Linked DNA regions of Homo sapiens: region 1 is linked to region 2. The links come from fine-mapping of genetic effects on gene expression. Tissue or cell type: visceral fat. Region 2 holds a variant in brackets; the other region holds the start of a gene. All regions are shown on one strand. Distances are between the middles of the regions.

Region 1 (12,411 bases), 120 kb after region 2:
GAGAACAGAAACCTAGTAAGAAGCAAATTTTCCAAAATTATAAAACATACTTTCTAAAAAACATTTCCCAACACAAAAATACCAATACTTAAGCTGAGCTATAGGGTAAAAAACGTTTAACCTTGGGCCTTCATATAATAAATCATGCATTCTACTTTCAAGATGTAACAGTTTCAAAAATGATTGGAAGCAGTGATACTATAAATGCTTTGTGAAAGTCATGAGAGCTAAAATATGAGCAAACATATCCATTTATACATATATTTAACATAAATACATCTAAATTGAAATTCTCCTTTGGATTTACTGCTTCTGATACACCCTGAAACAACAGCCCACCATATGCAATGTTAAGCAAAGTGTCAATATTCAAATAACAAGACAACAAGCAGATTTGTTGCATAAAATATGTAAATATTATTAACAGAAAGTGCCATATGATATCTCATGTTTTGATGGTTTCTGATCACCTATCTTTTCTGCCTCCTCAGTATCTTAGCTAAGACTACTGTTGTCAACAGGTACTTACGGATGTGCTGTATTGAGGCAGCGCTTCTGAGCAGGCACCTGTGGTGCTGCCCTAAGGAAACTTAGCATACCCCTTGCTTTTGATTTGCTTCGAACTTCAATGTACCATTTATTTTGAGTATATTCTTTCATACTCCTTATTCCTGCTATTTTACTTTTTAAAATAAACATTTCTGAAAGAAAATTGCCATTTAAATGATAACATCAAAAATATCAAAAAGATTAGTAATCAGCAATCATACCAAAGCAGCTATGCTTAAAATTTCTGCCAGAAGTTAAATGAAAAAGTTAATGCTAAAAATTCAAGTTTAGGAAAAAAAGAAGAAAATGACAAAATCCAACCATGGAAAGCACTTGCTAAACTGGCCATTTATTTGCAGTGTGTCAAAAAAATTCTTTCATTTTCAATAAACAATAATATAGGTACAATCTCTCTCTCTTGCTCCGTGTTTGTGTGTGTGTGTGTGTGTGTGTGTGTGTGTGTGAATTGAAAGGCAGAATTTTGGGACTTGTAAGCTTCTAAGTGGTACCCCCAAATAATTTCTAAGTTCAGTTGATTTCAATAAAACACTAGCTCTTGTATATCTCAAAAGAAAGACACATACATTTATTTTTTATTGAGAGTTAAAATTTATAGCTTTTTCTGAACCATTTGTTTATTCTAGTTTATCAATGACTCAAGAAAAACAGCAGATATGCTGATTAATCAAGTTCTATCGATCAGTAGCATATGTCAATATTTCACACAAACATCTGCAGAATAGTTTCTTCCAATCAAAAATTTATAAATCAATTTAAATTCCTGGTAATTAAATTTATTTGCTCTTCAACAATGAACACAGTACTTTATAAAGAGTAGTATGTGAAATCTGCACTCAAGAATATATTGATCAAAGGTAAAATAGCACCTTTCTATTTCTATTAAACCAAGGTTCTAAGAACTAGAAAGTTCAAACCTTAAAAGCCTGCAATTGTTTCAAATACATCTAGTAATTCTGTTGATTTTGGGCCACTAAAAGTGATTACTTAATTAGGCAATCATTCAAGGCATCCAAACACTCACACAGACAAAAACAGGGAAGTATTAGCATGGCTGTCTTCACCTTGACATGAACATTCTGAAAAACAGTGCAGACTCTCAAACTTTGTGGATCTGTCCCTATGAATGTCCTGAGTAAGATACTAAATTCTAAAAGGTGACAACCAGAAGCTCAGGAAAAAATAATTAACCTATAATGAAATTACCCATTTATCTTTTCAGGTGGTTTATATCTTAAACTATCTTAGAAATGCAAAGTAATAATACAGATGGTCTCTATAGATTCTTGGAAATACTACCTATTTTCTTCTCTCTGGTTACACTCTTATATTATCATCTAAAAGTAATTAATGAAATTTCTGCACTCTTGTATATCTATCAGAAGTAACTACCTACAAAAAGGTTTTCAAAGTTCCTGCCTAACATGAATAAAAACAAAAACAAAAAATATTTTCTATTTATGGGAAGGAAAAAAATATCAGCCCTGGAAACTCAGCTACAGGAGTCTTAAATATAACTAAAGAATAAAACCCCCTATTTTCACTCAGAAGATATCAGATACTGTTTTAAGAATCTTACTGATGAAATACAGCCAGGAGAAAGAAAAATACTCTATTTTCAGAAAAAAAAAAAAGATGTTTCTTGAAATAATTCCAAAGAGACCCTATAAACTGTGTTTTTAGGAGAAGAGAAAAGCAAATCAACTCACACATACAGCTTCCAAACAGAAGTCTTACCCTCTTCCAGGAAAACAACAATGAGACTTTATTACCCTGCTATGATTCTTTCATTTCAGACATGATTAATTAGCAAGTATTACACTTCTCAAAACTCCCACCCTACTCTTCCCTGCTTATTTGATGATAGACCCACATGAAATAACAAGTTGCCTCCAGCAGTGTAAGACAAGTATCCAAAAACTCTATTTTAAAGAAGAAACACTTCTTTCCTATCTTTGCCTCCCAAAATGAAGCAGGCTGCTTCTAACTGCTTTCACAATTTTGTTTCAACTTGGTCATTTTCCTAACAATACCTTTTCAATTTTAAATAATGCATACAACATATTCATTATTCAAGAACACATAGCATGTTTAATCTGATACCTCTATTTTTAAGCTGAAATTCCAAAGGACTTATGTGTCCATGCAGTTTATATTGATAACCATAAACATGCACAATTAATAAACAATAGAGACGATGTGTACAAGCATGTTTTGGGACATGGTTTTTGTAGAAATAATGTTTCTTTTCCAAATAAAAGCTAATTTGTCACAAATATAATGAAGATAAGAAACAAGCATGAAGGAGTAAAAGAGAGGAAGAACAGAAGAGGATAACTAAAATTTGAATGAAAAACTCTTGACTCTCTACATATTCTTCCAAAATAATCTTTCAAAATAATTTTCCTTTTGAACAATCTGTGTTCAAAACGTCCATTCCATGTGCACCAAGAAGCCAGCCATCACTAAATATATTATAAATGTATATTCTAACAATCATCAATTTATAAAGTCTGGGATTTCCCCTTCAACCTTTCAACTGTTACGTCCAGAAAACTTCACACATAGTGAAATCCTAATAAATAGATCTTGTTGGTTCCAGGAAACATTTTTAAAAATCTATACTGGTCAAAATATCCTTGCTTTTTTTCTGTTGTATTAAATTTAGGATCAAAAACATCAAAGCAGCTTCCACCTCGGACCTAACTTTTAGAGGATCAATGTGACAAGGCAGTCCCTGATAGATGTTTCTCTTGATAAACGACTTGTTCAAAAGAGACATTGTAGCTTTCATTTCCTGACCACAACACACTTTTAATTTGCAACAGCAGAGCTGCCAGAGTGTGAGCACTTGCCCACTTTCTAGTCTTTTAGGTTTGTAGCTCTGGTTCCTTTAGGCCGCACATTTGAGACAAACAAAATCTAAAAATAATCAGAGTAAAGAATTAGAAAACAAGAGCCAGTAACGCCACTTTATACATATACACAAGTGTCTACTTTATATATATGTATGTAAACTTTCACCCCTAGAATTCTAATATATGATAACAAGGCTCCTAAGTTAACATCATTTGCACATCGGACATTTAAACATAGGGAAATGAATTATGTGACTATTATTTAATAGTAAGCAGAGACTTAAGAGGGGGGCAATTTACACACTCAAATCTGCTGTTAAATGTCATGAATTATATAATTGCCTATGCCAGTATGTTTTTCATGAATTATTGCAATGATTATTATTAGTACTACCTAGAAATCACATTTAAGTATCAATACGGTGAACAGTCAAACCATCCAATTTCTGCTCTCAGCACATTGTCCGAGCTCCGATTTAAAATTTATAAATGTAATATCCTCCTCATCACAGGCAGCAGCCCAATCTGCTCTGAATATATATTACAGCTTTAACATCACAGAGGGAAATCGCCCATCTGGCAATCCCATTCGCTCCAACAGCTCCGGGGGAAAAAAAGCTGTGCTCTCTCCTCCTTAAAACATTTCTCAGGGCAAATTATGTGCATCTAAAATAAACAGTCTTCTTATTGATCGCTTCAAAGTCAACAAGTTCCAAATGCAAAATTCAATCAAATCTTTCCTATCGTGTAAGTGTGGTGTGTATTTAGCTCAATAGTCACCAGAGTCCAACCAGACGTGTATGTCGCGCAACGGGTCTTGTAGTTCCTCTCTTCGTATTCACATTTGTGTTAGGAGAGAGCAGTGACCACGGCCACACTACAGACCCCTGGCAGCTTTGCCCCACTGTTATTTCTTTTTTCATATTCTCTCTTTCCTTCTTTCTCTCTTTTCAGGAGGAATTAACGGTCATGGGGTAAACATAGCAACAACCAAAAAAAAAAAAAAAAAAAACAGTCTAAAGTGGACATATCCTTTGGTTATGCAAAATACTTTAACATCTTTTTGTTGTTGTTGTTCCCTCTGTCTTAATTGAATATTACAAAGTGTACACAGGGCACTGCCACAAGAGCTATTGAAAATCCCCTCTCACTCCATTTAACTGACTTTTTTTTTTTGTAAAGAAAGGAAAGAGCGATTTCAAACGAAGTCAATTTCAGTGCCTGATTATTTAATTCTGTCACAAGTTAAAAGTAAAAAGCGCTGACAGGCAGACGAGTGAATGGAAAGGGGGAAGAAAAACCTATCCCTACTCTTTAAAAGACATCAAGGACTTTGGACAATCAAAATATAATTTTTATTTTCATGTAAAAGACACCTCTTCACTTACCCGCCCCCCCCAAAAAAAAACCACACTCAGAAGAACTGATTACTCCACAAAGTGCAAACATCAAGAGCAGATAGTCAAACTGCATTAATAGATTGAGAAAAATAAAATTTTCATCCAGTCCTGTTCCTGTGTGTGTACATATATATAGATACACTTTCATTAGTTAGTAATCTTTCCCAACACTCCTGCCCTCTCCCCTTTGCCCAGCCTCCCTCCTTCAAAAAAAAAAAAAAAAAAAACCCACACTGAGTTTAACTAATTTACATACTATTTGACTTCAGCAGTTATATATATATAGTGCATTACTAGTAACGTGCAACTTCTGGATGACAGCTAAAACCGATAAAAGTGGATTCAAGTAATATATTAATCAAAACTGCAATATACAAACAAGTGATAGCAAAAGAAAAAAAAGCATGGTGACATTAAACATATATTTTTTAAAAAAAGGAATTCTATATCATGAGCAACTGCTTGCCAGGCAGTCTTCAATGGTTTTATCATGCTATTTCATTTGTCTTTCCTATTTAGATGCAAAGGAAGTAAATTCCAAAACTGACATACCATAAACACTGGTGCTACTGATCATTTCTTGCTGGCAGCACAAAAAGCTGAATTGGATTTCTCACAAGCAGGAATTCCAAAGGTTGCTTTTCATTAAAGCCACTTTTCCTCTCAGCTATCAAATGTCACTGCCTTGAAACGTGGGCCCTTTCGTCAGGTATTCATTTAACCTACATGCATATAATTAAGGGGGAAAGCAACATCAACAAAAAGGGGATCTCAGATCACAGGAGAAGAAAGAAAGGAAAAAAAGCACATGACCAGGAATGCAAGTCCATGTCAATTTCACTCACTCCCATTGAAACTAACAAGAGCTCCGGGGAGGACGGTAATAGGATCAGTGGATTGTATATACCATTAAATTATACATCTTTCTCTCCCGTTCCTTGCCAACAATACGCCCACCACGCTGTACCCCCTCCTAGATGATGTGCTTACATTTTTCTGCAACCGATCTTCTGACATTTTCTCGTTCCCCCAGCCACGAGATTGTAATTTAACCTCAACTTTTTGTGTGTGTGCAAGATTCTTATTTACACTTCTTATTTACTTAGAAGTTAGTTCCCGAAGAAAGTCTAGCCCCACCCTATGGCTCCGCTTTCTTATTTTTTTATTTTTGAAGTAAAAAGATAGTAATAAGTAAGCCCAATATAGCGAAAAGCGAGATTCTTGCAATCGCGAACTCTTAATCCCATACTATTGTTACAATGATTAAGCAGCAAAAATATGCATTATAATGTTTCAGGGCTACTTTGAACAGAGAAATTAGACAGCAGGTTGGCGTACAGAATAGAAACGAGTGGAAATTGAATTTAATGTTTACGGCACAACTGAAGATCTCTTTTAATTACAGGTCTTGGATGTATTTATATTCTTTAAAAATAAAACAAAAACAAATTTAAACAGATGGTAGAAAACTACGAAGCTCCTCTTACCTGAACGCGCGGAGAGAGAACCCGATAGGTTAGCGTAGCATCGATCCGATGTGTTTGCTGATGAATGGAAGCTAGGGTTAAGTGAAGGTGCCTATGATTTGAAATCATTCCAAGTTTTTGAAGGGAAGACGGACTGCAGCCTCTGCCATGTTGGAATTTCAAACCCAAAACAGCTGCTTGGAAGGAGCCAGCATGCCAGAGGCTGGGCGCAGGCGCAGAGCGCCGCAGAGCCAAATTCAAATCACTTTCACACTAAGAGCCAAAGATCAGTTTTCAAAGGAGAGAGGGAGAAAGAGACGGAGGCTGCCGTGAGGGAGAGAAGACGGGAGGCAGTGGCGAGAGGCGGGCAGTGGAGAGAGACGGGCAGCGGGAGGACCAGGAGGGAGAGGGAGAGGCGCACGGAGCCCGCGGAGCTGGAGGGGGAGAAAGGGAGGCGGGAGGCGAGCCGGCGAGCGAGCTAGAGACGCGCCAGAGATTCATGGGCAGGGAGGGCTCAATGGCCGCGCCGCGCCGGCCGGCCGGCCGCTCGGGTCATGTTACACGGCCGGGGCCGCGGCGGCCGCCCAGCCTCGCCGATGCGCTCACGCGGCCCGGAGGGGGCCCCGAGGTCATGATTACGCGCGCGGGGACTCGCAGCTCTCCCTGCACGCACTCTCTGGCGGCCCAGCCTGGGGAAAGGGGAGCAGCGCCGTAGGGGGAAGGGGGCTTTCTTTCCCACGCGTGACCAGCCGGCCCCTGCGCTCCCCGGCCTGCGTTGGAGGGCCCGGGACAGAGCCGCGCTGCTCCCCGGCCCGCGGGCTCTTCCCTGCCGGTTCCCGGCCCTCTCGACAGCTGCGGCCCGTCCGCCCTTCCCCACCCCCTCTGCGCACGGGACGGGATCTGGTCTCGAGAGCCTGGACCTCACCGGCACCCTCCCCGGGGCCCCCAGCACCAGCCAGAAAACGACTTGATCTGCTTAGAAGAGGCAACTTCGGGGAGAAAATTCGCGTTCGCCCAGTTCCCCTCCCCCGCCTCCCTGTGAATAAATAAAATCCTAAGTGTCTAGGTGTGCGGTCCCCTCTCGCGCTCCCTGGCTCCCCTCCCTACCTCCCCCAGGCGGCTCGGGCTGGAGAAAGCAGCGCCCGGGGGGCCCTGGTGTCGGCGGCTGGTGCGCAGGCATAGACGTTAGGCTTCTGCCTTCCCAACCCCCCTCTATGGAGTAATCTGGGGACCCAGGAGTGGGAAGAGAGTAGGGGCTTTGTGGTGCTGGGAGCCGAGGAAGAATGAAATGTGCAGTTGAGTGTGTTGCTCGCATCCCAGGGAGCAATGCAGTGCTGATTGTCTGTTGCTGAGATAGCCTTTTGTTCGGAACATAAGGTTTAAGAAACACACACACGTTTTCTGGGGTCTCTTGTTAGATGTAAATGTGCGGCATCCAGACGCTTACTATGCAGTGTAAGCTCAGTTGGTTTACTAATCACCCCGCCCCACCCGCAAACAATCAGGATCATTTGAATGGGAACCTCATTCAGACTTCTAGGCTGAGAGTATTGCCTTCAACCTATTTCATTCTAGACTAGCCAACCATCCAACTGAGATAATAAAGCAAACAATAACATTTGATCATGATGTCTACGAGATAATGTGCCCGGCAAAGTTCTTTAGGAATTGTAATGAGAAAGAGAGTGAATTGGGTCATAATTTCTCTTCGTTTTCATTAAATATGACTTTAATAGATAAATGGTGAGTTTATACTTTGGCCTGGTAGACATCCAGTCTTCTATATTTCAACGAAGCTAAGAATGAAAGAGGCAAATTATATATTCCACCAGGAGCCCATCAAGCTGAAAATGTTACCTTTGAAGGTTGGAACCGAAAATGCACTTGCTGAGGACTGACCCTCCTCATAAGGGTGTTCACATTTCCCCCAGCTTCTCTGTTGTAGATTTGATAGCCTAAATTGCAGCTCTCCAGATGCTGAAATGCAGCTCTTTAAAAATGCCAAATATATACTTTGAAATTAATTCCATTCACCTTTTATGATGTTCTTACCTTTGAATGGATGCCTTTAGCTAACACACTGAGAAATAAAAATTATTTCAGTTAAATCTAGGCAGATGACAGAATTTAAAAGACAAAAAAAGAGTGATTCGAGATCCTAAGAAATATTTCTAAGCAATGAGATTTCTATTTGGAATGGATTTGACCTTTCTGTGAATTTTTTAAAAAAGGAGTCTTCGAAATAAAACAGAAGAACTTTATTCTGATGTAACAGAGAACACTGAAACCTCTTTAGTTATATTTTACAAGATGGCTTTGAAAATGATATTACGAAAAGTTGTTCATTGGATTTTACCACAAAGAAATAAGTGTAGGGAAATATCTGTGGGTCACTGTTGGATTGAGTACAGATGAATTAAAAAAAAAAAAAAAAACTGTGAAGCGCTCATAATCGCAGTTATTGCCCATTTGGGGAATGACGACCAAAAGTCCTCTGGACACACAGCAGATGCTCTGTGCAATTCGGGCAAAACTGCTCTGTTCTTGTTTGTTAAAAAAGTTCAGAGCTCATCAACCTTTAACATTAAATCCTAGCGTTGAATTTACAGTTCCTTGTGTAAATTCAAATAGTGAATAAAATATATAATACAGTGCCCACTGAATATAAAAACAATGTATTTTGATGACAGACTTAAAGCCATTCATCTGTAATATCTAAAATAAAACAACCCCTGCTCTTTAAAAAGAGGAGGAAAAAGTGTGGTCAGCAAGAGTTTATTAATAGATAATAACTGTACCTTTCCAATTCCCTTATAGATTCATTTGAAATACACATTATAAAAAAATCATTCAACATGCAAATAAATATAATTAACTTTGGAATCAAATAATTGGAAAACTGTTCAAAAGAGCACTGGATAGAGGTACAGAGTTTCTAAATTGTTCAAAATTACATATACTCTGGGAATAAAAGACACTTACATAATAGAATATACATTATGGGACTTCCATAATAATAAGATACACAGGAGAGTTCGTCATTGCACTATTTCTCCCTTTTTTTTTAAGTATAGGTAAAAGTTGCTTTTCTCCAATTATTTTAAGCAAAGGAAAATAAAACTTGACTTTCTTTTCCACAGAGATTCATGGCATTGTTTGCGATGTTCAGTTTTTGTTGTTTTAATAAAACTATCTTTAATTATGTGGTATGATTAAAAAGCACTTTAACAGTCATCATATTCTGTATGCATTTATCTTCAAAACTTTTAATCAAAAGAAATGTTTCTGGCTGTAGCTGACATCCATCTCTATAATATCTTTTGAAACTTCTTGATATAACATGAGAATTAAATATTGAGTGTTTAAAGGAAGTTGATTGGCTAGTCAGGGAAACAGTTATTTCAGAAAATAATAAATTTGACTAATTTTTCCCACTCTATTAGCAATATCATTTCTCTTTCTATTTTACTTTTTAAATGCACAGACATTATAATGCATAACATTTTGACTAATATGTGAAATTCTAATACACAGTATACTCAAACTTGTGCTTTTTAAGAAAATCAGAAGAAAAATCAACATAACTCTTCTTCAGGAGTGTGTGTGTGTATGCCTTCCTTTCAAGATAATTCAGAGGGGAATTCTACTTTTTTCTGCTTTTTCTTCTCAAAATAATGTAAGCAACAACAACAAAAGTGAAGGTTAAGGGAATAAGCAAAGTGATACTGAATGTGATTTTGCAAATGACCATAGACTTGTCTGCACTGGACTAAGGAAAATATGAGCTAGGCTGGACACAGAGATGTGCTTTACCTAAGTGATGGGAGAGGAAAGGAAAGGAAAAAAAATCAGTGGAGGCAGAAGGTAGACAGCGGGTAGAAAAGATGAGGGAGATGTAGGTCACAAGATGCTTTAAGGAAAGAAGTTTGGAGGGCTATCATGTATAGTTTTTCATAAAATGCTAAACGCAATTCAATTTAATTTTTCAAATATTGTTTTTTAGTTTTGAACTTAAATGTTAAATATTTTAATAAAACATTAAACTAATAATATATTCTTCCAAACTCCTGGGTTTCAAAACACATTCTAGAACTTAGTAGCTGTTTATGAAACTAGACTTTTTCTTTCATATTACTCACAAAAATCTGAGGTAGTTCTTACAATAATGCAAATTAGTGACAAGATAATTTTTTAATGCTTCCATAAAATTGCAGTATAAGGGTCATGATTTTCACTTCAATAAAGTTACTAAGAAGTCCTTATGTACCACCCTTTCCCCTAAAAAAAAAAAAAGAAAAAAAGAAAGAAAAAAAACCACAAAAGCTAGTGAAGATCATGACCTCATTGAGTAAAATTACTCAATTTGCTCAGAATGACACTCAAATGCAGGTACTGTCAAAGGATATTAGTGTGGTTCATACATCTCCTCAGTGATCTAGCTCTACAGTAGAGACAAACTGGAAAATCCTGTGATGGGTTCACTTAAGATGTTTTGCTTTCTTCTATTAACCTGAGTATTACATTTTTAAATTCACATATATTTATAGTGTGTGTATATTTGCTGGAACTTTTGCCTGATTTTGCATGGTTCTCAATTTCATTTAGAAAGTATTCAATGCTTAATATAATTAAAAGTACTACACTACAAATTGCAGAGGATTTGAAGAAAAGTGACCTTAACATTTTATGGATGAAGCCAGATAAATATAGCCCAAAGTGAATGATAGAAAGTGCAGTTATAAAGGAGTTCTGTCTAGAGGAAATTGTGAGTTCTTTTGTGAAGGACAGGACAGTTTTTCTAGACTTTGTCACAGCAATCTATTCTTTTTTTTTTTTTTAATTTTTATTTGTTGCAGAGAACAGATATCACTCTGTTGCCCAAGGTGGTTTCAAACTTCTAGACCGCAGTGATCCTCCTGATTTGGCCTCCCAAAGTGCTGGGATTGCAGAAGTGAGCCCCCACACTTGGCCTTCTCATAGCAATTGTTATGCACCAATAAAACAGACCACTTATAGTTTGCATAAACTGTGCTGTTTTTCCTCTCTATGCCTTGCTTGACAGTGTGCCCCCTGCCTGAATTGACTTTTCCTCTCCGCTTCTGTGGGCGAACTCCCTTAAGACACTCAGCACTTAGCTCCTCCAACCCACACCCCAACCTTCCTAGAGGCACTTAAGTATCTTTCCCCTGTTTGGACTCTATTTCTCTTTCTCTCTTTGTACCCTCACATCATTTTAAGGGTGTTCATGTCTTTCACTCCTGCATTAGATTTTGAGCTTCTTGAGGGCAGGCAATTATCTTCCATCTTTGTTTTTCCTCCATGCCTAAATTAATTGGGATAATTCAACATACATGCTTACTGGGGAAATTAATGAATTGACAAGTAGAGGAAATAGATATGAGCAAAGACAAATTGAAAGGAAACTGTAGAAGTATTTGCCCAAAATAGCATATAATCTAGTTTGGTTGACCCTTTGCTTTCCACAGGCACAGAATGGGAAATAAGGATGGAAATGAGAATTGGGGATGTATTGCAGAGGAACTTCACTGAGTCCCAGCCTGAGAGGTTTTCATTTCAGTAGGCAGTTAACAGAAAGTGCTGGAAGGTTTGTAAGAAAGCGATTTATGTGGGCTGAACCCTGCTTTAAGAAGATAGAGCTAAAAGACCTGAAAATGGGGAGACCAGGAGGGAAGTTATTGCAATGGTCTAGCATTTTCTAGTCCCCCAAACTGTGAGTCCTTCTTGTAGGTTTGGTGATATGCTTCCTTGCCTTTTTTATAGATGATCTGTTTGTATTGATTGCTCAATTCTGCACGTTCATTTTGTAATATTACAAAATGTCAGTGTGTTTAAAGGCATTCATTTAATGTCAAAGATATAAAAAGGGACAATACGTTGAAATTGAATTTTTTCCCTCTACCTGAACATGGTCTTTCTACTCACGCTGCCTCTCTCTCCCCACTACCACCCCCACTTTACAATTAGTTCCACTCAGACCGTGCTTTCAAGCTTAGAAGATATTTCATTTTCAAGAGAAGTAATGCCTGAAGATAAAGAAAGTTCCTCCCTGGAGTATGTTTGAACAAGCAAAATAAGCAAAGTGAATTTGGTTTTTATAAA
Region 2 (11,855 bases):
GTTCTCATCCGACTGACTGGACTATGTTCCTCATTCACTTGAGAGGAGAGAAGCATGTCAATGTCACTAACAAAAATCACCGAGGGCTGGCGACACCTGGCCACAAGAAAAGAGGCATGGATAATTTTCTCTGCTTCTCCTAACCACTTGGCGACTAGTCCAGAACCGGCAATTTTGAAAAATGTGGCCCCCAGCTGACTAGCGATGCATCTGCCCAATAATGTTTTGCCTGTCCCCCGAGGTCCAAATAAAAGGATGCTCCGAGGTAAGGCCGTCAGTCCACTGAACGCGTCTGACCTCAACACTGGCCATAAAACCTCCTCTTTAATGACAGCCTTCACCAGGTCGAGACCAGCAATGTCATTCCAGTCCACTGGAGGTCCTTGGGTGATAATCTCATTGGTTACCAGGTCGATGAGGTGCGTGTCAGTATTCTTCAGTTGCTCGTCCACAGAGTGGTTGGATGAGGTAGCTGCACGGAGTCCAGGGCCTTGCATTGGGTGAGAGAGGAGCTGCCTGTGCTCGTCCCCATGCTCACTCATTACTGGCGATGTGTACTTCCCAAAGGATTCACTGGATCTTGATCCCAATGAATTTTTAGCAGTACTGTAGGAAGGAGGGGTCAGAGCCCTACTGGACTGGCTGCTGAATTTCCTTTGCTGTTCAGAGGACATTAGCTGCTTCGTTGGCTTAAATGCTAAGGATGATGTTTCAGCACTTCTGTCAAAGCCATTCCCCCGATTTGTGTTTGAAATGCTGTTGTCGGGCATTCTGTACATAGGACTCTGTGTAGATCTCTGTTGGCCATAGCTGTAATTTCCATAACTGGAGTCCATATCTCCTTGCCCTGCCATGTAGAAAGCTTTCCTTTTGAGAGAACTTGCTGAACTGTTTGTCAGAGCCGACGGTGCAATAGGTGTCAAACCATGGCCCTGGTAGGTGTAGCCAGGAACAGTGGTGGGGGGTAGGGGGGTGGGAGCAGGAATTCCTGAAGGCAGGTACGCTGAAGGCGGAGGCGGTGCCCCCCCAGGGCTGTACCCAGACCCCACAGCAGTCTGAGGAGGATAGCTAGCAGACGGATAGCTGTAACTGGAGAGGTTAGAAGTCCCATTGTAGCCTGGGACCAAGGCTGGTGGCGGAGGAGGTGGTGGTGGGGGCTGTAGTAGCCCAGAGCTATGCAAAGGAGACGGATGAGGTGAAGGAAGTGCAGGTGCTGGCTGGCTACTATAAGTAGAATGCAAATATGATCCGTTGTATCCTGGGGCATATTCCTGAGATGGGAGCCCTGCATGAAGACTGGGTACAGTGTGGCTTCCACAGGTACTACTTGAATAACTAGGTTCTGTCAGGTTGCTGGCTACCCCAGGAGAGCTTCCTATACTCGCAGAGACATCTGCTGGAGGGAGGGCTGAACTGACTCCAGCTTTGCTGGCAGTGATAACATCCGGAACACAGTTCATGGGATAAACAGCTTCTGAATTCAAGGAAGGCTGCCAGGGTTCACTTTCATTTTTCCGACCGTTCACTAGTCCTGATGGTGTGTCCGAATAGTTGCTGAGTACGGGTCGGTCCACAGGACCTTCCAAAATGCCGGAATACTTCTCTGCATATTTTTTTAGTAGGTTGGATGCAGTCAGAGCAGATATGTCATCATTCGCCCAGGCGTACTGATAGGTGCGCTGCAGATGACCTCTGTAGGCTTCAACTTTGTGGGCAGGAGACCGAGTGGTTGAGGTGATGTCAAAGTGCTGTTCTGGCCACTGGGCATGCTCTGGCGTCCACTGCATCTTCAAGCCTAAGAATTTTGGGGGGAAAAGAGTTAATTTACTTAAATAGGCATCAGAACTCTTAAAGCTTTTCCCCCAATTTCTTTTGTTACCTATTATTTTCCATTAATGATATGCATACTTTAAAAGATCTACACTGTTTATAATACCTATTATGATCCCTATAATAAGTACTCTTTAAAATGGACTAAACTTCAGCCCTGTTTAAAAAGCACACTGAGTTTAAAATATAACTCTGTAGTTACCTATATTTTTTGCATTTGTAAGGAATAAGTAAATCTATTTCTGTCAAGCCCATCAGCTTACCTACTATACGCACATACACAATCACATATATATGTACACACACATTCCTGTCAAATTAGAATTCAATCATAGGTTCTTAAAATAAGCAGACATTTTAAATATCTTGCACATGGCAGTATTAACATGTACAATATCTAGCTATTCTGTCTGTTCACATCACAGTTTGTTTTACATTTTAAGCAATATAAAAATGAGACACAGCTGACAGATCACATCTAGGATACCTCTCTTATTTGGTACTGAACACCTAGTTAGCACAGTATAATGCTCCCTGCGCAGAACAATATGACACAGACATAGCAGGTCATTCCATAATCCAACTCTCATCTAAAGTGGTCCACGACAGTTTCAAATCTGCTTCGTGGAGTGCAGCAAAGCAATCTCCCAGGCAGCGCTCCATCGCTTTCATCGCACAAAGCCTACAACTCGGTATGAATTACAACTGGCTCCTTTCTGCCTCTCAGTTCTGTTGTTGAGTCTCTGAAAAAAAAAACAAGCATCACTTGTCTGTCGGTCTTCTAGCGTTCTCCCTCCTTCTCTTATAATCCCTCCTCCCCTTACAGCCTGCAAGGTACTAAGAGGGGAGAATGTGTGTGTGTGTGTGTGTGTGTGTGTATTTATACACATCCTGTCTTATACATCTTCATATATATATATATATATATTATATATGAGAGAGAAAGAGAGAGAGAGAGAGAGAAAGGAAACTGAGGGGAAAGGGAAGATAAGAATGGAGAGAGATTCTGGATTCTAACTCTTTCAATTTCTATAGGAAACCACGTAGGGCATACGCTAGAGGAGTACAAGTAGATAATGAGATGGTCTGGGTAATTCTATCATCTGCTGGGTTACTAAGTGAAGCAAAGTTGACTATGTAGCAAACTACAAAATGAGCATTTTCTCATTTAAGAAAAAAATACTAAGCAGTCAGAATAATTTGAATTTTAAATTGTAAAGAGACTTTAGAAATTACTTTATTTCACAGATTAGGAAACCAGGGCCCAAAGCGATTTATAATGTACCCTCGAGGTCTCACATACAGTTAGTTACAGAAGAGGACTGGTACCCTGTTCTCCTTTTTCCCATTGCTGGCTCATCTCAGTCTAATCTCTGCTTGGTTTAACACTTCCTATTCTGGTACAGCTATATTAAGCATCTCTCCTTCATCTTTTTTGTATTACCCAAAGTGAATTTTGCAAACTGTCTTGTGCCCTCTGGCAGAGATGCCTTGATAAGGAGGAGGCCTGGTCTACATGAAGCATCTGTGGCATCAACCCCCTTCTGAATTACTACAGTCTATTTTGTCAGTTTCTACCCCCTTCTGTGCTCTTCCTCCAAGCTCTGTGGCTCTTCATTGCCTGACTCTGGCTTCTGACATGGCCGGCTCTGACTTACTGCGATAAACTGAACATAACACACAGTTTGGTAACAGAATGGCATGTTGATTCCCTTCTGACTCCCTCTTCCTTGTTTGCAAAACCACTGCACCAGACACTGGAAGTTAATTAGCAGGATGATGCTGTGCTAATTGTGTTAATTTACAAGGTTTTAGTCAAAGAGAATCATGCCAGGGCTGGCACTGCTGTCATGCTTCCGACTTAATGATTAAGAAATACTGAAAACAAGGTGGGAAGGATTGCAGTAATTACACAATAAATGAATAAAGCAACAGGATTCATTTGCAAATATATTTTACTGCAATTGTACTCATTTGCATTTTGATTTTTAAAAAGGATCCATGTAGATATTCATTTGCAAATCACAACTCAGTTAAATTAAGTCTGAATGCTGCACAGTGTAACTTAATCAACCTAAATATATGTATATACATATTAGTAAAAATTCTAAAGACCTCAGTTCTCTTGTACATGCAACAGATTCTTTCTTCAATTTCCCTCAACTACCCCCAAAATTCATATTTATGTTTTAAAACTTTATATATTATTAAATAATCTCATTGAATGGGAAAATAGTATTATAAAATCCTGATGAAATGCAGCTTGCATCATTTCACTCAGAGAAACTCTGAGGATGAGTTCCAGGGAGAACTAAAGTGGTATTCTTAATTATTTCTGCTTTCTCAATCATTACTTTTTAAGGGGGAGGAAAACACACCGCAAAATGGGTGAAATGACCGAAACCACACTTAAAGGGGAAAAGCTGCAATTTTAATGAAGCAGCATTTCAGGAATCATACTTTCATTAAATTCAACTGGAAATTATTAAGAGCAAATCACCAGGAACCAATCGCAAGTAATCAGTATCTAAATGCTTCTAGTGTCGTGGGATTTACTTCAAGCCTTATAAAAAGGAGAGAATATTAATGTGACTGTAATGTAGAACTGTCTAAGAGACCTACAAATTCATTAGTCCTGTAAATTATTTCTAGGGAATTTCTATTATGGTTCTTTTCTTTAAAATATTATCAAAATACAGAGTAGAGAAAATAAGAACACACATATGCTGTGAGTATAAATGTGATTAGTTTGATACAGAAAAACGTGAAAAAAAAAGTCTTAAAGGGCTCAACAAATAATTTAGAAGTACAGGCAATGGAATTTAGCACAACACACACACATAC[G/A]TACGCACACATAAGTTAAAGGACGGCTTCCTTTCAGTTTGCTGAGCTAAGCCATTGTTAGCATAAGTTAATAAACATACATAACAAATATTATAAAGAAATATACTTTTTAACTCAAATGAAACTGCTTATTTTTTTAAAAAAACACAGGAGGTGGGAACCCCCCACCTGTATTAGCTTAAGTAATGTTTTCTTGTAAATATATTATTCATACAAGAGATGAAAAAATGATTTTAATAAGTTATAATCACTGTAAAAGACAGTAGTATACAGTTTAAATAGAGTGTCCATTTCATAGGGTATTTTTGCATGGTTTAAGTCTAGCAAAACTAAATTTCGTAAGATTTCTTTTTTACCTGAAATTAAGCAAAGATCATATTTATCAAAATTATCTATTTGGAACAATTACTGGATACACCATTGCCTTTTGATTGTCATGCTATTTTTGGATGTGCTTACAAGATAATTGAAAGATTATTTATTGATGCATAGTAAATAACAATAACCTTTGCAGAGCTGCAAAAGGCAAAATTGTATTTTGTTTAAATACAAGGCAATGGACTTGTTCATATCCCCTGAAACGAGAATTTATCCAGTGCTTTAAAATCATTAATGTTATTTAAAAGCATAAGCTAATCTAACCACAAACTAATTCTTGATATTAGCAGGAGCTGAGGAAATCAGTGTTCAGGAGATTGTCTTGGCCTTCGAAGTACAGAGCCTTTTGGTTGGTTCCTTGAATTTTAACACTAACTGGAAATTGGTAACCAAATTTATTTTTTTGTTGTTATTGTTATTGTGTTTATTGGTGGTGCTATTTCTGATATGAAATGGAACAAAACCACAGAGCCAAATGTTTTCTGAACAACAAAAACATCCTGCTTTGTTTGACTGTATTGCAATTATGTGTGAGTCAGAAGCAATACACCTGTGTCACTTAACTTGGCACTCAAATAATGGGTTGAGTTTTAAAAACAGCTTTTATATGGTTTCTCTTCAGAACATGGAGATGGATCTCAGAAACAATACTATTTTAACATTATTAGAAGCATGACTTTAGAACAATAACTCCTACTGTTGTTTGGAAATAGTTTAAATAGGTACAGTAAAAATTCAGAAAACAGTGGAAAGTAAGAAAAATAGTTTTTAAAGATAATTGAAGAATTGTTGCAAAACATCAATTTTTACTTTTGAAAGGATCAGAAAAATCTTAATACAGCTGGCAAATTTCATCATGCAACGTGTTTTTTGAAAATACACAATCTAATAGAAAATTGCTTTTAAGATAATTTAAGTGTTACATAGGAATGACAGGTACTAGAGTAAAACATCTGAGCATTGTTCTTATTTTATTGTTATGGGATGACTCCATGTATATATAAATGAACAAATCCATATTTCCTATATAACTGGATAGTACGGATAACATTTGCCATTCTTACCATTACTGACCATTTGATAACTTAGGTTTAATTACTAACCAGTTACTGCCTTGTTGCTTTACTTTTTCCATTTTGCTCTTTAACTAGTTTCGAAACAAAACAACTATAGCATCCTCTGAAGTTCTGCCACAGCTATAAAATTTTAAACAGTAATATAGAAAAATGAAGGGTATAAAAGCAACTTTCAAAATGAGAGGAAAATTGGAAATAAAAGGTTAGGTCTTCTAGAATCTGTTTTTAGCATATATTCATAGAAATATCAATGTGAGGCACTCACTACCCAACCCACTCCTTATATACGTGTACTATTCAACAGTTCATCAGGTCTAAAATAGTTACTCCCTTTTACAATGTTCCCATAGGGTAATTTTGGCTGCTAGGGGCTCTGCCTTCATTTGTAGGTTTTCTCAGACTTCCTAAGGGCAGGGACCTGAGGCAAACACCTGCAGGCATGGCAGGTTTGCCTGCTCTAAAACAGATGCATAGCACTCACACAGGCCTGCATGACAACATTACTACACCTATTACATTTCTTTGAGCTATTGCACCTCTGAACCTTTCATTATTTTTTAACATTAAAAAAATTAATATAATATTAGCAAGGGTTTCTCTGAAAAACAATCACTACTGGGGTAAATACTGTAAAGTAATTATAATACTTTACAGCCTCTTCTTTCTGATGCAACAGATTTATCATCTCTTGGGTTGGAAATGGCAGAACTAACATACAGAGCATTCAAAATTTCCAGTAGAAAGTAGAAAATTCATTGGCTAAAAATACAGGTCTATGCAGTGAAGAACCTTCTGAAAGAAGGATTGTACACCTCCTGGCACTGCAAACTGGCCCTGTGCAATATCTACTTATTATCATTCTTCAATGGGAGTGATGACCAAATGAAATGTTTGAGGAGACTAATGCAGCCTTGTCTACTCATCCTCATAAGCCAAGAGGCCAACACAGCATTATCTAGTATTACTAGTACTAACTCATTTGATCTGGAAATTTCTTCAGCCCATTCCCCGATCATTCTTGGCTTTAAAATATGGCATAAAATCTACAAGTAACAGAAAGGGAAAAAAGTGAGGAAGAAGCACTGAAATTACGTATCATTTTTACCTAATTTTGTTCCATCTTTAGAGGACCAAAATTAGAAGATTTTATAAGCTGAATGTAACAGAGGGGCTGTCAAATTTTAAATTTAGTCAATAAAAGATGAACTATGTACAAAGCATTGTGGTTCAATGCTAAAAAGGAGGATCCATTTTCTATAAGGTGATGAAACCTTTTCAACTCTCTTTTTCACAATTTCACAGTCTAAATTCTCCAAAATTAGACTCTTTGATTTTAGAGATTAACAGAACTTTAAAATGACCTAACCATTCCAGACATCCTCACTTTTCGATTGATGTTTCACTTATAATGATGTCTTATAGGATTGGATACTATTTTGCATAATATAGTATTTTATTTGGAGCCATTGATAGATTGTTGGGATAGAAAGGGACTGAAGGAACATAAAGAAGGTTCAAGAATTTTGTTTCACGGTGAAAATTCCAGCCTGTAGAATAAGACCACTGGCAGCATTGCTTACATCATCACTTATTTATTCTAATCTTGGTTAAGTTGCTTAAGCACATCATACTCACTCAGCTGTGATATGTGGACAATAATGGTATTATTTCACCTTACTGTATTGCTATTAAGATTACCTGAATAATATTTTGTGAAACTATTTCCCAACTGTGAACTGCTACACAAACATTTCTTAGTATTCTTTTATTTTGAAAAGGCCAGGGGTGCATTAAAGACAAAACAAAACAACACTGGCTAGACAGAAAAAAAGTAAAATCACTCCCAGAATTTATAAGTCAGTTTTCCTTCAACCTCAGGACAGCAACTGTAAATGAAATTTTCCAGTGGGACTGTTGGTTCCAAGAAAGATACAGAAATTCTCTCATTCTGAGCAAAACAAAGAGCATAATCTCTTTAATCAAAAAGGTGTCAACATTTTCAAATGTTTTCAAAGTATTTTATTTATTTTTGATGTTTCCTGTGACTCAACATTTTAGAGATTAAAACTAAGAAATAAAGTACTTAGAGGTTGAAGACTAGTTAAAACTCATTTTAAAACCTGCAGTTTCAAAATAAGATATTCTAATTATATAACAATACTGTCAAATACTTTTTTCTCTTTAAATCATATTTTCACACCTCAAGACTCCAAATTACAATACATTTTGCAGCAGCCTTCTCAACCCATTCCATTGTATTTGCATAAAACAATGCTTTTTTTTTTTTAAACAATTATGAAGGCATTTCTGGCTAAATGGGTCTTAGTAAATATAGTTCAGATACCTCACCCTCTTACAGAGAAATTGCAATCTGACAGCCTGAGGGTAACATATACCCTGCAACTGTGTTTGGTTTGGCCAGCACAGGGCTTTAAAAATCACTCGACTTTATGTTTTAAAAGATCCGTCTCAAAAAAAAAAATCTGTATTTCCATATTTCCCATTTTTCAGACAAGATCTTACAACACTTCATTCGTGCCTGGCAACAGCTGTCCGATTCTGGGGACCAGCTCCCTCCTTGGGGCATATCCTACCCTTTCCACTTTGTCATGGTGCTCCTACCCCCTGACAATGTCAGGTATTTTCATGGTATCTACCAGGTCACACAGGCATTTAAATTTAGGACTCCACTTTAGAGCTTCAACTCCAGTTTCTTAACTTACATACCTTTTCTTGAAATCTAGAAAGTATTCAGCTCTAAAAGTTAAAAACATTTTCCAAATACTTTTTTTTATGATAAGAGAACCTCCCTACCCTCTTACAACACAACACGTGGGAAATAATTGATAACTTTCTTATTGATACAGTGTCATTAGTACAACAGTGTGGAATGATGAATAATGAATGGTATCTTAAAAAACTGGTCTCAGATGCTGTTTCAGTGTTCCCCCTTTTGCTCTAATTTGTCAGATATTATTTTTTGCTATTTTCCTATCCATTTTCACCATTCCTAATGTGCTGTATGTTTGATACCACAAACCAAAGCTTAATTTAACAGTGAGTGAAGCATCTCCTATTAGTTGAATACACGAGCATTAGTACAACTTTTATAAGGTTATTTAAGCTACTCCAAAGTTATGCTTCTTATTTCCTACAGAAAGTTGTTGGGTAGATGGTACGCAGGTAAGCAACAGATCTTGTTGTCTAAATGTCTTTATTTTGGGCTTCATAAAAGCCTGTATTTAATGTTACAGGCACCATGACTTGGACTAGGATGGTATTAATATATACTCTGTGTTTAAACTAAACTTGTAGGTAGCTTATGATCTGAATTGGGTTCTCTACAATGCATTAAATTGTATCCATAGCAAGAAAATATTCACCCAACAAATATGACCAAGTGTAACGGTGACTATTTTTGCCAAAATTTCATGTGGTGGATAAAACTTGATATGCATGGGTCTGATTGGTCATTATTTTTAATATGCAATAAAATGGCTTGCATTTATGAGAATGAATGCATAAGCATTATGCAAAGCAAATTACAGTGATGAAAGAAATATCATTTTTAGACCACTGAGCCTAGATTCACTATATGATCAGGACAGAAACCATATCATTTAAAGCAACCCAGGAAATCATGATCATAATTCAAACAAGTAATTTTTCCCTTAAAATTTCCTATACTTAAAGTATACAAGTGAACATATTATCATGCTCACACACAAATCCACATAGTTTAAAATTATAACTTAGATCTATGATTTCTGTGTGGGGGTAGGGGGTAGGTTTTGTAAATGTTTCTGTGTAAAATTTTTGAATAATAATCTAAAACCAAGTAAAAAAAAGTGTACAAAACTGTGTATATTCTATGGTAAGTTATTCAGAAGGATACATGAGGATGCGTGTACATGCAATTTAAAATATACAAATAATTCACACTCTGAATCTTCCTAAGTGTCAGGTGTCATTAACTATTGTAAGGGAAAGAGTCTGAGGTAAAAGGGCTGATTTTCCCATATTTAAAAACTGTTATTTTGTTTATGCTACCTCTGTGAATTTTAGACAATTTATAATCAGTTTAAATAGCACTTTGTAGTTAACCTTTAAAGTTGTTACTTTGCAGCCTTTCATTTCTTATGCCCTCTCTTTCCTTTTTCCGTATACATTTTTCAATCCATTAAGGCCATCTACCCTTCCCCCCAGATCATCAGGACATACCACGTATGTCCATAGGGACTGCAGTGGCTAATGAATATGTATGTTCTGTGTCACAACAGAGCACTACCCTTGTTCTGCAGTATCAACCCTCTTATGTGTGTAAATAACAGGTGAGCTGTAGCATGCAGGGATAAATGGGGTTAACACAACCTGAGAGCCCCATGCTATATTCATAGCATCCAGCCTGTATGATTGATCCATAAACAGAGTACTAAATGCCAAAAGTATTTTGCATTTTCTGAGTGTTTTGAATCTTTATTTTTTAAAATATTTTGCAGAGATAATAATTATCATCATCCTAAAAGTCTGAGGTTATTCCAGTTGATTCTCAAAATACTGTTTTGCCGTACAAAATATATTTGCATTTTTATTTAAGAAACATCTGGCATGATACCAACCTTGAATTATGACATGGCTAGTATATTTCATCAATCATAATCCTAAAATGGTATACTAACCACTAGGTGCACATATAACTCTGTGTAAATATTTGTGTGTGTGTGTGTGTGTGTGTGTGTGTTCCATTTCAACTATCTAAATGCAAAGCCCAATTTAGTTATATTTAAACTGAACTCTATTCATGTTTTGCCCAACACACCAAGCTGAAAACGGTCAATAAACAAATTAAGAAATCTTCCAAACCCCACAACCTTGCTTAAAATGAAATTTGCATTCATCTACTTCTCTGTGTTCCTCTGGAACCATACTCTAAAAAGACAGTTTACATAAGACAAAATAGATATATAAGTCTGCTTATGTAAGATTGAGCACTGTCTCATATAATTAGACAAAAGAGTAAGAATGTTATTCACATGTTGAGGGTAAAACTGTTCAACCATTCTCCTTAAAAACTTTGCTTTAGGTGACTCTAAAGTATGCAAAGCCCAGACAAAATTTGTTTGGGTTATTTATGCATTTTTCTCTTTTTGGCAATTCGTGCATTAATTTTTAATGCAATAGCAAAATAGTGTCTTGGACTTCGAAAAAAAATTCTATAGTCAGGGCTGGGTGACATAGTGCATTAATTCAGTGTCCTTCACTCCTGGGACCTGTGTATAATTTAGTCCAGCCTGAAGAAAATAACTTTGATATGAAAGTAGTGGAAAAAGCTACATATGAAATGAGTTTTGGTAGGTTACGTGTTGTTTTTTTCCAAATAAGACGTTGTAAGAAGATAAACTGATTTAGAATACAACCAGCACAGCCTAGGATTAAAAGTGAGAAGCTCTTAGCAACAGCAGTAGTTTCCTCACCTCTTCATTTTCCCCACCCTGCCCCCTTCTAGTGAAATAGACCTGGTGAAATAGACCTGAGCACCACGTATAATTGGGATCCTCTGATTTCCAGATAGACTGAACATTGTTAAGGTGCAGTGTGAACGACGGTCCAGTCATTAGCGCGGTTGGCTCTTTCATTTGTAAAAACAAAGAATGCTGCATAATGAGCAGAAACAGGAGAGGATATCAGCATCTTCAAAGGAAGTGGCATTTCCTTTCCTGGAGAGGG

Direction of the effects. Positions count from the first base shown, and alleles are read on the strand shown. Sizes are in standard deviations (SD) of each study's normalised expression.
As copies of G replace A in region 2, the expression in visceral fat of the gene that starts at base 6,483 in region 1 goes down (moderate effect, 0.43 SD a copy in GTEx).

The links.
Region 1: it holds the start of FIGN, and the variant in region 2 is fine-mapped to the expression of FIGN in visceral fat (GTEx, PIP above 0.99). The same link has a PIP of 0.9 or more in nucleus accumbens, ovary, sun-exposed skin, thyroid, tibial nerve and unexposed skin.

The regions. Positions count from the first base shown.
Region 1 is chr2:163,729,526-163,741,936 of GRCh38, forward strand. FIGN (fidgetin, microtubule severing factor) reads right to left here and starts at 6,483. Exons shown (of 3, transcript NM_018086.4): 1 at 6,313-6,483; 2 at 5,378-5,547. The coding sequence starts at 5,402. LOC107985957 (a long non-coding RNA gene) reads right to left here and starts at 4,416. Exons shown (of 2, transcript XR_001739759.2): 1 at 1-4,416. RefSeq lists enhancers at 7,090-7,606, 7,607-8,122.
Region 2 is chr2:163,610,012-163,621,866 of GRCh38, forward strand. FIGN (fidgetin, microtubule severing factor) reads right to left here. Exons shown (of 3, transcript NM_018086.4): 3 at 1-1,795. Among named protein-coding and RNA genes, the nearest start is that of FIGN, 120 kb to the right of the region's middle. RefSeq lists an enhancer at 11,513-11,855. The variant G/A (reference allele first, on the strand shown) is at 4,675.